2 separate regions of the Homo sapiens genome follow, and region 2 is linked to region 1. Evidence: fine-mapped expression QTL. A gene starts in region 1. The other region holds a variant in brackets. All regions are shown on one strand. Distances are between the middles of the regions.

Evidence for each region. PIP is the estimated chance that this variant, and not a neighbour inherited with it, causes the effect. A credible set is the group of variants that fine-mapping cannot tell apart.
Region 2: its variant is the best candidate, but not a certain one, in a credible set for the expression of SCN4B in monocytes (Schmiedel 2018, PIP 0.77).

Annotation. Positions count from the first base shown.
Region 1 is chr11:118,149,920-118,155,142 of GRCh38, reverse strand. SCN4B (sodium voltage-gated channel beta subunit 4) reads left to right here and starts at 2,320. Exons shown (of 5, transcript NM_174934.4): 1 at 2,320-2,530. The coding sequence starts at 2,470. RefSeq lists an enhancer at 1,202-1,702.
Region 2 is chr11:118,078,610-118,083,832 of GRCh38, reverse strand. The region is part of intron 1 of SMIM35 (small integral membrane protein 35); the gene reads left to right. All of the region lies in intron 1 of TMPRSS4 (transmembrane serine protease 4), which reads right to left. Among named protein-coding and RNA genes, the nearest start is that of TMPRSS4, 4.1 kb to the right of the region's middle. RefSeq lists a silencer at 345-639. The variant G/A (reference allele first, on the strand shown) is at 2,451.

The DNA.
Region 1 (5,223 bases):
CTCACCTCAGTCTAGGGTTCTGAGAAACATGACCCCTGCTGTAAAAATAAAGTGGTCAGTTTGTATGCCTGGCCCTGCGGATCTAGTGCAAGGACCTCCTGGGGAAGGACAGGGTAAGCCTGCGGACCTGGAGACAGATGGGGAGGCTTAGCCTCAGGGCCCACAGACCTCTTTAAGTTCAAATGTACTGAGTGTTTATCCTGTGCCTAGCTGTCTGCTGAGCACTTTTACATGCAATAATATCTCATTCCCTCTTTACAGCTAGGTCCACTTTTGATGTTGCAAGTCCTGGAGCAAAGGTACAAATGGAAATTATACATATGTCTAAATATTAATCAGGATAACAAAGTGTTAAGATTGATGTTTTATCCTCTGCCTTTAATTACTTTTCCTTCATGATAACCTGGAAAACCATGTCCAAAATGAAATTTTCAGGCCATTCTCTGGTACACACTCTTCTCTGGTCCTGTAGTGAGAGGGGCTCTTGTGCATGCCTAGGGTGTGTGTCAAGTTACATGCACTCCCCATCACCTGCATACAGCTGTCCCTTGCCCACTGCTCTAGCCCTTGAGTGCACACCTGATATGGCCAGCCCTTGAAAGGACAGATCTGGGGAATAGGGAATTCCAGAGTTCCTGATACCTGGAGTACAGTCTAGAAGGGGAGGAGGTGCATGCCCCCACCTGCCCTGCCCCCTTGGTCCCATGGACTCATTCTCCAGTGAGGGGCATGGCCAGAGGAGGGCCAGAATGAGGGCCTTTAAAACCAGAAATCAGGGCTGAGGCTTCTGTTGCCCAGGTCCAGGGGTAACATCGCTCTTAATAAGCCTAGGAGGCAAATATCATTGCATTCACCATTTTATAGGTGAGGAGCAGAGGCTCCCCCAGAAGACCATGTAACTTGCTCAAAGCCATACAGTCATAAATGGTGGCGCTGCCAGAGCCTCTGTGCCACTATAGGGAAGGCAGCGACCCTCTCTCCTGAAAAAGCAAACAGACATTCAGCACTTTGCCTGCAACCTCAAGGGGTCCGTGATCACGCCGAAGTCCACCCAGAGACCCCTCGTTAAGAAGGCGGTGCGTTGGTGTGCCTGCAGCAGAAGTCAGACCATGAAGTGGGAGCGGGCTTCCCAGTCCGGACCAGTCCTAGACAGTAAAGAGGGCCTGTGATGCAGGGAGGGTCTTGGATGGTTGGAAAGGTGCTGAGGAGGAGATCGACTCATTTACAGAACCACCAGCCCAAGTAGCACCGCTCAGGTGAAACTCTTTCACTTGGGCCTGTCTGGGAAAAGGCTTACTCGTTCACAGCCTCGCCTCAGCCCTCTGACCTGGTTGTCACCCTGGACTCCTCCACCCCTACCCCAAAAGGGAGGCCGAGGGAGTCTGCCGTTCCGAAGAAAACAGGAGAGTTGGAGGAGGGCGAAAAGGCAGCATCTGAGGGGGACGGCCTAGGTAGGAAAAATGAGAAGCAGGGGTGCAGCGGGAGGGTGAAATGGGGCGCAGGACACAGACCAGGCGCGGACCAACCTGCTCCCTAACCTGGAGCGTGGTGATTTCCAAGGGGTCCATGGAGAAATGTGGGGCGGGGTGGCGTGGGGGTGGGGGAAGGGAGGGCCGGGGCAGTTTGCAATGGGAAAGCTCTGTTCCGGGCTTCCTAAAACAACCGCCGGAGTTGCTGAGCGATGGGGCAGAAGGTGGCGGGAGCGGGTCCCGAGGCTGCACGCGCGCCATGTCGCACGCCACCGAGGAGGCGCAAGCTGCAGTGGGCAAGCCCGCACACGCCCACCCGTTGCGGCAGCGTCCGCTGCGGACTTTAAAGCGGTCCCTTGGCGGTCCTGGGAGAGGGAGCCGCTAACCTTCCCGTGTTCCCCCAAGCAAAGCAAAACAGTCTTCCAGCAACCGAAAAGCTCCACCTCTACTCCCCCCGAACTATGCTCCTAATTGGCAGCTCAGCGCATGGGATGATGCGGGTGGCTGCAGGCCGGCCCTGCAGTGCCAGCCGCAGCAGCCCAGCCCCACTGGAGAGGGAGTTGGGGGCACGGCGTGGTCCCGGGGCTCCGGGACCGCGAGGCGGGGTGCGGCAGGCAGGGTGCGCAGCGGGCGGGGGCTCCCCGGCCTACGCGGCGGCCACCGCCCCTCCTGCGGCTGGAGCGCTTCCAGAGCAGAGGCGCAGCCTCGCTCGCCGCTGCGCTCGCTCCGTCTTCCTCCCGCTCCTGCTCCGGCTCCTCCTACTCCTTCCCTCCCGCCGTTGCTCCAGCAGCCGGCTCCCAGCAGCGGGCGAGCGCGCCTCCCCCTCCGCTCCCTCCCTCCCCCTCCTCTCGCTCTCTGCCCGCTAACTTTCCCGAGCCCCGACCGGCGGCGCAGAGCTCCGGGGTAGCTTTGTGGCCGAACGCCGACCTCGGGCGGAGAGCGCGGCTGTGCCCAGTATCCCATCCCCGCGACCCCCGCGCGCTCCGGAGAGAACAGGACTATGCCCGGGGCTGGGGACGGAGGCAAAGCCCCGGCGAGATGGCTGGGCACTGGGCTTTTGGGTAAGGCAGCCCCAGCTTGGTCTCTTCTCTTGCCTCCCCCCACCCCCAAAGAAGGGGACACTCGAGAAGGAAGATGCCTTGGATGGGGTGGGCTTTGGAGTGCGGCACGGAATGAGGATGGTGGCCGCCGGCTTCCTGCCTGGTTCCTGCCTGGTTCATAGGCTGTGCTCCCTGGGGACCGTGTGCGTCCCTCTCTACCCCATCAGCCCGCCAGTCTCAGGATTAGTTTTTTTGCTGTCCTTGGCACCTTCGGCTCCAGGTATTTGGAGCTGGATCTTGGGGCTGCAGCGCGGGTCTCCAGAGTTCAGAGGTTCAGGATGCTGGAGGAGGGGGGTCCGTGCCTTGAGTGCAGGGGATACCAGGTGGGTTGCACGTGTGACTGTTGGAATGGTGGTTTCCATCCCGGCCCAGAGCCGTTTGCTTGTTTCCCAGGCACCAGGCATGCACCAGTTGGGGGTGGGGGAGTCCCCTTCTTCCTGGGCCCTTTTCCTGCTTTGCTCCTCTGCCCTGTACCTCCCTCAGGAGCCACTGCCTTCCCTACAGCAGCACCTGAAAGCTGGAAGGGGCTGGAGGGGCTTGCGGGATCATTCAAGGCCCTTTAGGAACGGCCTTGTCTCTCTTCCTACAAAGAGATTCCGTAGGGAAGACCTGTTTGACCTGCTCCTGGCTCTTCATTTTTGAAGTGAATATGGAGACAGAGAAGACATGTCCAGAGGACACGGAGGAAGAAGCATTATTAATATCTATTAATATGCACATGAGAGTTTTGAGTGTCAAACTCCAAGAGATTAGGGAATGATATTTATTCATCCAGGATGTAATCTCCTCATAAATCATAGCCAGACTTTAATGTAAGCCGACTCCATCTCTGGCAACGGCATCTCTTCCTGTTTATATTGGTCAGATTTGGCTTTTGGCAGCTCCCTGCATTGGGTAAGACACACGGTGTAGGTATTTCTGCTGAAAACAGGGAGACAGAACCCTATAAGGGAAGTGGCTACTGTTTCTGCGAATGTAAACTGTGTGCAGATCTAGCAGGTTGGTGCCTGGTGGTGAAGAGGGGAGAGAGTATTTCTTGTACTTGGGATGTTTATTTACCTCTGTACCGCTAGATGGAAGACACCCTTGTTTTCTCCTGTACCTTGGCACAGATGTCATGCTGGTTTCACAGTGACCTTAATGAAGTGGGCCTTAGTGACGCCTGAGGCTCCTTTTCACAGGGTGGGCACAGCGCCATTCCATGCTACTTCCCCTCATCCCATCTCAGATCAGCCCAGGTCCCCATGGTGGCAATGGCAGGGGTAAAGGATCACTGAGGAATTCAAACTCAGCCAGTCATTAAACTACCCCACTTCACACCTCTGGCTTACCTTCCTGGGTGGTGGGATGCCAGTCCCTTGTTTGTTAGAATACTCATAGAACCAGGCCTCTGTGGGCAACCAAGAGGGCCCTGAAAATGATGTGTGTGTGTGTGTGTGTGTGTGTGTGTGCACGTGTGTAAGGGGGATTGTAGGCACAGTCTTGGTACATTGCTCCAGGTGGAAGCCCCACCTTCTCCAAGGACTGTTCAGCTGTATAGACCAGGTAGGGGCTAAGGCCTATTGATATAGGTTTAGATGAATTTCTGAGCTACCCTTTGGGAGCCCAGGAGAAAGCAGAGTGACTTGTAGGTGGGAGACCTGCAGGCCCCAGGACTGGCCTCATCTGCTCTGTCCCCTGCCCCTCTGGTCTGCAGAGGGACTCCAACCAAAGTCCCTTTGGCCCTTGACCAGGTAATACTGACTGAGCCCTCACAGGGGCATTGGTCTGAGCTTGGGACATAGATGACATCCTTGCTTCTCAGTCCAGTGGGGGAGATACAGAGACGACTGGACAGCCAACTGGAGGTGTTCCCTGGGAACATCAGAGTTGGCAGCAACTCTGGGAAGCAGAGCACAGAACTCTCCTAGGGATGAGGAAGTCATGGTCCAGAGAGGGATGGTGACTTGTCTAGGGGCTCATGGCCAATTGATGGCCAAGTGGGACAGAATCTAAGTTTCTTGGGCTCTGTCACACCACGCTGCTTCCCACTTAACTCAAGTCTGGTGAGGGGGAAGGTAAATAGTGATTGTGCTTAGGGCTGAAGAATAAGTGAGGCTCTGGGGCATGAGTGTGGAAGGATAAAGACTTGAGGGGCCTAGAGCGGCTCTTTTCACAGCTTCGGAGACTGGGTACAGAGCAGTGAACTCCCAGGAGTCCTCTTCCCCTCTCCCCGTATCAAACCCAGTCTCACAGACTGAGACCAAAGTGATTTTTGATAACCTAACAAAATACCCTTTTCTTAAACTGAGAAGCAGTTTCCAAGGCTATATTATTGCCATTGAGGTTTATGTGCTTTCCAATCTCTTCCTAAGCATGTAACTGGTAATATCTCTGTCCTGCCCACTCCTTCCTTGTTCCCCCATTTACTTAATTGCTGTGATCTGTGTTTAATTATCACTTGTGAGGGTGCTCTATTGCACAACCCTGTTTCCCCTGGTGTGTATTTATTAAGGGCTTGTTTAATGAGAATGCAATTAAGGAGAGGGTGCTCAGTCCCACTCAGAGGAAGAAAAAGGAAAGAAGAAGCAAGGAGACTGTGGAGAAGAGAGGAAAGGGGAGAAGTGGAGGGAGTTTGAATCTGGAATCCTGGGTTTGAATCTGGAAAACATGCT
Region 2 (5,223 bases), 71 kb after region 1:
GATCTGCCCTTTTCGGCCTCCCAAAGCGGGATTACAGGTGTGAGCCACTGCACCCAGCCAAGAGTACAGTAATTGTTAACTGTAATAATAATAACAACAACAATAATAGTTTACTCATTTAGTAAGGCAACTTTCTGGGCCCTGGAGACCTAGCAGTGAACCAGAGGTAAAGCTCTTTTGCCCATGGAGTATATTCTATTATTTTTATTAGTTATTAATAACAATATTAAAATAGAACTTGGGAAGTTCATGACATAGTAGATACTCATAGTCAAAAATTATTTATTGTTAATGGGAAGGAGCTTCATAGAGGGCCTGTCATGTATGTAATAGGAACTGAGCAAAGAGCGACTTTTATGATTTCATGGGCCCCGGGGCTTGGCTTCAGCAGGGGACTCTGTGGACTAAGCGCATCTGGGGACAGTGACCAGGGCAGTTGGGACCGGAGGTGATGTCGTGTGACCTGTGTGAACTCTCTCGGAAGAGAGGGTGGAACACGCAGTTCAGAGAAGCAAGGACCAGTGGAAGCATGAAAGCTTCAAGTGTGTGTGGCCGTCTGAGAAAGGCAAAAGACAGTTCTAGGAGGAACGGGGGAAGTTACAGAAAGTCTTTTCTCCTGGCAAAGGAAAGATTGTTTTCAGCAACCGTAGCTTCTAGAAACAGATGTGTGAGCAAAAGCTGGATTGTGAAGGTTTCTGTGGCAGACGAGGGCCAGGGTCAGATAAGGGCTCTGAGCACCCCTGGGGGATTCGACCGAGCCCCGCAGCGGCGCAGCAGAGGAGAGGGAGGCAGGGCAGAAGTGGCGGGGGTGGGGGACAGTCCTTTCAAACACTGCAGCTCTGTTTTTCTCTCTGTGTCCCATACGAGGATTCTGCATTTGATTTCAGTGGAGCTAAAGGCTCTGAGGTCAAAGTACGCTTGGGGAACCCACTCGCCGAGAAGACCTCTAAGGTTTTTCCTTAGGGTCTGTGATTCTGAAGAGCTCACTCTCAGCCTGAAATTTCTCTTGTCTCCTCCCACAGATAGGATTAGTCCTAGGCCTGATCCACTTATAATATTCTCTCTTTAAATCAATTTTCTATCGTTAATGGTCTCCTGGTAATTTGGGTTTTTTTTTCCCTGAGCAGCATTGGGTATGAAACTTTAGTTTAGTCTTCTTGAAAGTCTAAGTTAATTATAGCTACTGGTTTTCCCTTTGCCCTTGGCTGAATGACCCTTTTCAAGTCATGAACCTCTTTGAGCCTCAATTTCTTTCTTTCTTTCTTTTTTTTTGAGACCGAGTCTCACTCTATTGCCCAGGCTGGAGTGCAGTGGTGTGATCTCGGCTTACTGCAACCTCTGCCTCCTGGGTTCAAGCGATTCTCATGCCTCAGCTTCCCGAGTCGCTGGGATTACAGGCGTGAGCTACTGCGCTCGGCTAATGTTTATATCTTTAGTAGAGATGGGGTTTCACCATGTTGGCCAGGCTGGTCTTGAACTTCTGACCTCAGGTGATCCGCCCACCTAGGCCTCCCAAAGTGCTGGGATTACAGGCATGAGCCACCACACCCGGCTGAGCCTCAATTTCTTCATCTGTAGAATGAGGATTACAATGTCTCAGAGAGTTGTATTAGACTGAAGGGAGATTTTGGATGTGAAAGTGCTTCTCAAAGCACAACATGGGGCCCTTGTTGCATTTGGATAGAGATGTGATACTGCCGCTGTAGCTATTATTCTCTTTAAGACCACCAGTGACTCCTACGTGTCCGGACAGGTTCTCCCAGCAGCCTGGCAAGACCCTCCTCTCTGGAGACTGGAGATGTGATCGTGAGTGATGTCAGGGTGGAGATGGGATGAAGGTGAGGGGGCTGACCTTGGCTCTATGTTTAGCCCCTTCTTGTGGACATCAGTGAGTGAGTGAGTGTCAGGCTTTGTCTGGAGTGTGGGAAAGCAGTCTCCCCTGCTCCTGTTCCATCTATGGAGTGCACAAAACTGAAGGCCTAGATTTTACATATTCTCTGAATCTTCCATGGTATCTTGCCAGTACCTAGCACATAGTAGATGCTCAGGGAACACATGCTGAATGAATGAATGAATGAATGCATACAGATTTAGAGGAAGAAACTGAGACAGCAGGATATGCTGAAAGCATTGGTTGGCTCAACCGCACCAGCGGGCGACGCCCAGCCAGACTGATGTGCAGGACATTTTGTGACAGGAGACGCGACTGCCACCCCTGGACAGGTGCGCACGCCTGGACAGGGGCCATCATGTCTCTCACCCTCTTCCTCAAGTGTTCCTTTCATCTGCTACCCTTCGAGAGTTTCTGGTTGCACGTGGATTATGCGAGGAAGCTGGAGGGTGCTCTGGGGGCCACGGGCAGGGGAGGACTGTTGCGGTTTTCCATCTTGTTTACACATTTCTCAGCTGCCGACGTGCTGGTTAGTCAGAGTGGCAGGCTGGGAGGTGGC[G/A]TTAGACGTGTCACAGGGGGATTGCCACATTGGCTCTGCCCCACTCTTCCCCTTCCCTATCACCAGGGTTTCCGGGCAGGCTCAGACCTGTGCCTCCCTCATGCCCATCCCCCTCTGGGATAAAAACACTTTAGTAACCCCTCAGATAGATCTGGTATGTTTTCCAATTGGACTTCGGGTGAGCCTTGTTTTCAGTGTCAGATAAATCAGAAATTGGTTATAGGGGATTCTGTCTTTGATTATTTACCTGTCATCCATCAATCCACTCATTCATTCATTCACATTTACTAAGTGCCTAGTCCATGCCATGGATGCCATGCCCTGTGCTAGGTTTGCGGCTAAAAGCAGAAAAGACACAGACCCTGTCCTCAAGAAGCTCCCATTCTGGTGGCAACAGGTTTAAAAGAAAATGTGGTAGATGATTGCACTTTAGGTTTGGAGGAGTTCACTGTCCCAGGGAATCCTTGCTTGGGAACTTGAAGCGTTTTACTGAGGCTGATGTTTTCACCTGAGCAGGAAGGAAGACTGAGGGCAGAAGAGGCACCTGGGAAGTCTGAGGCCGTGGAGATTTTCAGGCCTGAAAGCATTTGTCTCCTGCTGCCCTGGGGCGTTTCTGGGGCTTTGGGAAGCTTGTCGGCAGTTCCCCAGCTCTGTTTTGGGTCTGTTTTTCTCATCTCTCCCTCTACCCATGACCCCCTTGAGCTGGTCTCTCCTCATTTCTTACATTCAGCTCCTCAGATCTCTTGGGCTTTGGCATGGGTCTGGGCTAGGGAGGTGGCTGCTGGGTTCTCAGCTGCACTGAGGGAAGACTGAGAGGAGGAGAGAGGCCTGGGGTCACGCAGGAGCCCTGACATCTGAACCCCTTCTCCAGGGAAGCACCCAGGCACAGAGCTTGACCCCCAGGGTCAGGCTGGAAGCGCCCTGGGAGATGGACAGGGCCTGGGGATGCAGCTTCCACCTCGGCAGGTGCAGCTCCCATGACCTGGAGTGCCGGAGTCTTTGCTCCAGCCACAGCGAGAGCCTGTTGTCCCTATACTACCACTCTTTCTTGCTGTTCACACATGCAGTCCCCTGTGTCTGGAGCTCCTTCCTGCTTTCCCTGCCTGGAGAGAGCCTGCCCATCCTTCAGAGTCCAATGCAAATAGTTTCTCTTCCAGGACAATTTCCCGACTTCCCTAGAGAGAATCTATTGCTTTTTCAGCTCCAGGGGTACCTTGTAACCACTGCTGGTGTTATACTTGTCACACTCTGTGTTGAGCACCTGCAGGGTGAAACCTAGGTATTGGGTCCTCCCAATCCCCAGCCCCATTTAGAGGCTGGCCAATGAAAGGGGCTGATTAAATGGTGTCTGGCTGGAGCTTCTTTTGGTGGGGGGGGAGTGGTTACAGTGACACCAGGCCCTGTCACCCAGGTGGCAAAGGATCCAGGAGAGCAGGCAAAGCAAGCAGCCCCTCCTTGCCTGTCTTGCCCTTTAGGACCTTCCCACTGCCCAGCTCAGTTTACCACCTCAGAGCCTAGGATGGCACTGCCAGGGCCGAGTGGGCTTCTGGATTCTGTGCCCCAGTCAGGGTGGACCCTGCAGTGCTCCCAGCACCCCGCTGCCCGCAGGCTGGCTCCTGACTGCCACGTTTCTGAGCCCAGCCAAGCCCAGCCAAGCCCCTTGACTCTGTACCAGGCTGGCACGGAAAACAGGAGGTGGGAGGGAGGACCAGCTTCCTCCAGAGCAGCCGGAAGCGTCAGGGGGTTGACCTCAGGTGTTAACACCCACGTCTGGTGGCTCAGGGTGCGTTTAGGTCTCCGGAACAGTAATGAGTCAAGGCCAGGATAACCAGTCCCAGGGTCCCTGACTTCCCTCCAGGCCTCAGCTATGGAGTAGTTAGCATGGGACACATTTCCTTCGGGGACAGGGCTTGGGCTCTGACCTCTGCCTGGGCCTGAGTCCCTGCTCCAGCTCTCCCTAGGAATACCCAGCTTAATGGGTTCTTGGGAGAGCTGTCATTAAGACGCAGCAGCTCAAAGGACCCTGACTGTCACAGAAAGGGGCCTGTGGGGATGGAAGGAGGTAGGGAATGGAAGGGAAGGGAAGGGAGGGCTGAGCCTGGGTGTGGAGATCCCATCCTCCCCTCAGGGCTGGGAGCTATGGCTGTCAAGGGTTATTAAGCACAGGCTTAATGACAGGGTTATTCAGCACAGGCAGTATAATGGCTAGCTCCGGGGCTAGAAACTTCCTTGACCACACCGTGGAGATTGGCCATGCTGCTGCCTTGCCTTTGGGGCCCCAGGCCTGACCTGACCCCTCCACCAGTGTTCCCACCTGCCCTCCCCCGCTCCTCCAGCAATGCCCAGCTCCTTCCCTGGTGGCAAAGGGTCTGTGTTGGGTGTACTACCCAGCTGTCATTTCCTAGCACAGACTCCTCTTTAGTCCTAAGTCCTTACATCTGTGCGGGGCTTCATGGTTTCCAGAACCTACTCACATGTATTAGCTGTGTAATCTCTGCGAACCCGGTGCATGTGCGTGGGGCTGTTGTGGGTCATATCGTTTCCGTGGGCAGGGGAGAAGGTGAGTCTCGGGAAGATGAATGCCTCAAGACAGCACAGCTAATCAGGGAGCTGGCCTCAGCCTTCTGATTCTGCAGTTAGTGACCTGCCCTAGAAATGATTCCCTTCTCTGTTGCTCCCCCAAGAGACACCCCAGGTCTCCTCAGTGCCTGCCACCCAGAAGCAGCTCACAGCTAGGTAGACTCCACAGCTGCTCTCCTCTCCTGGGAGCCCC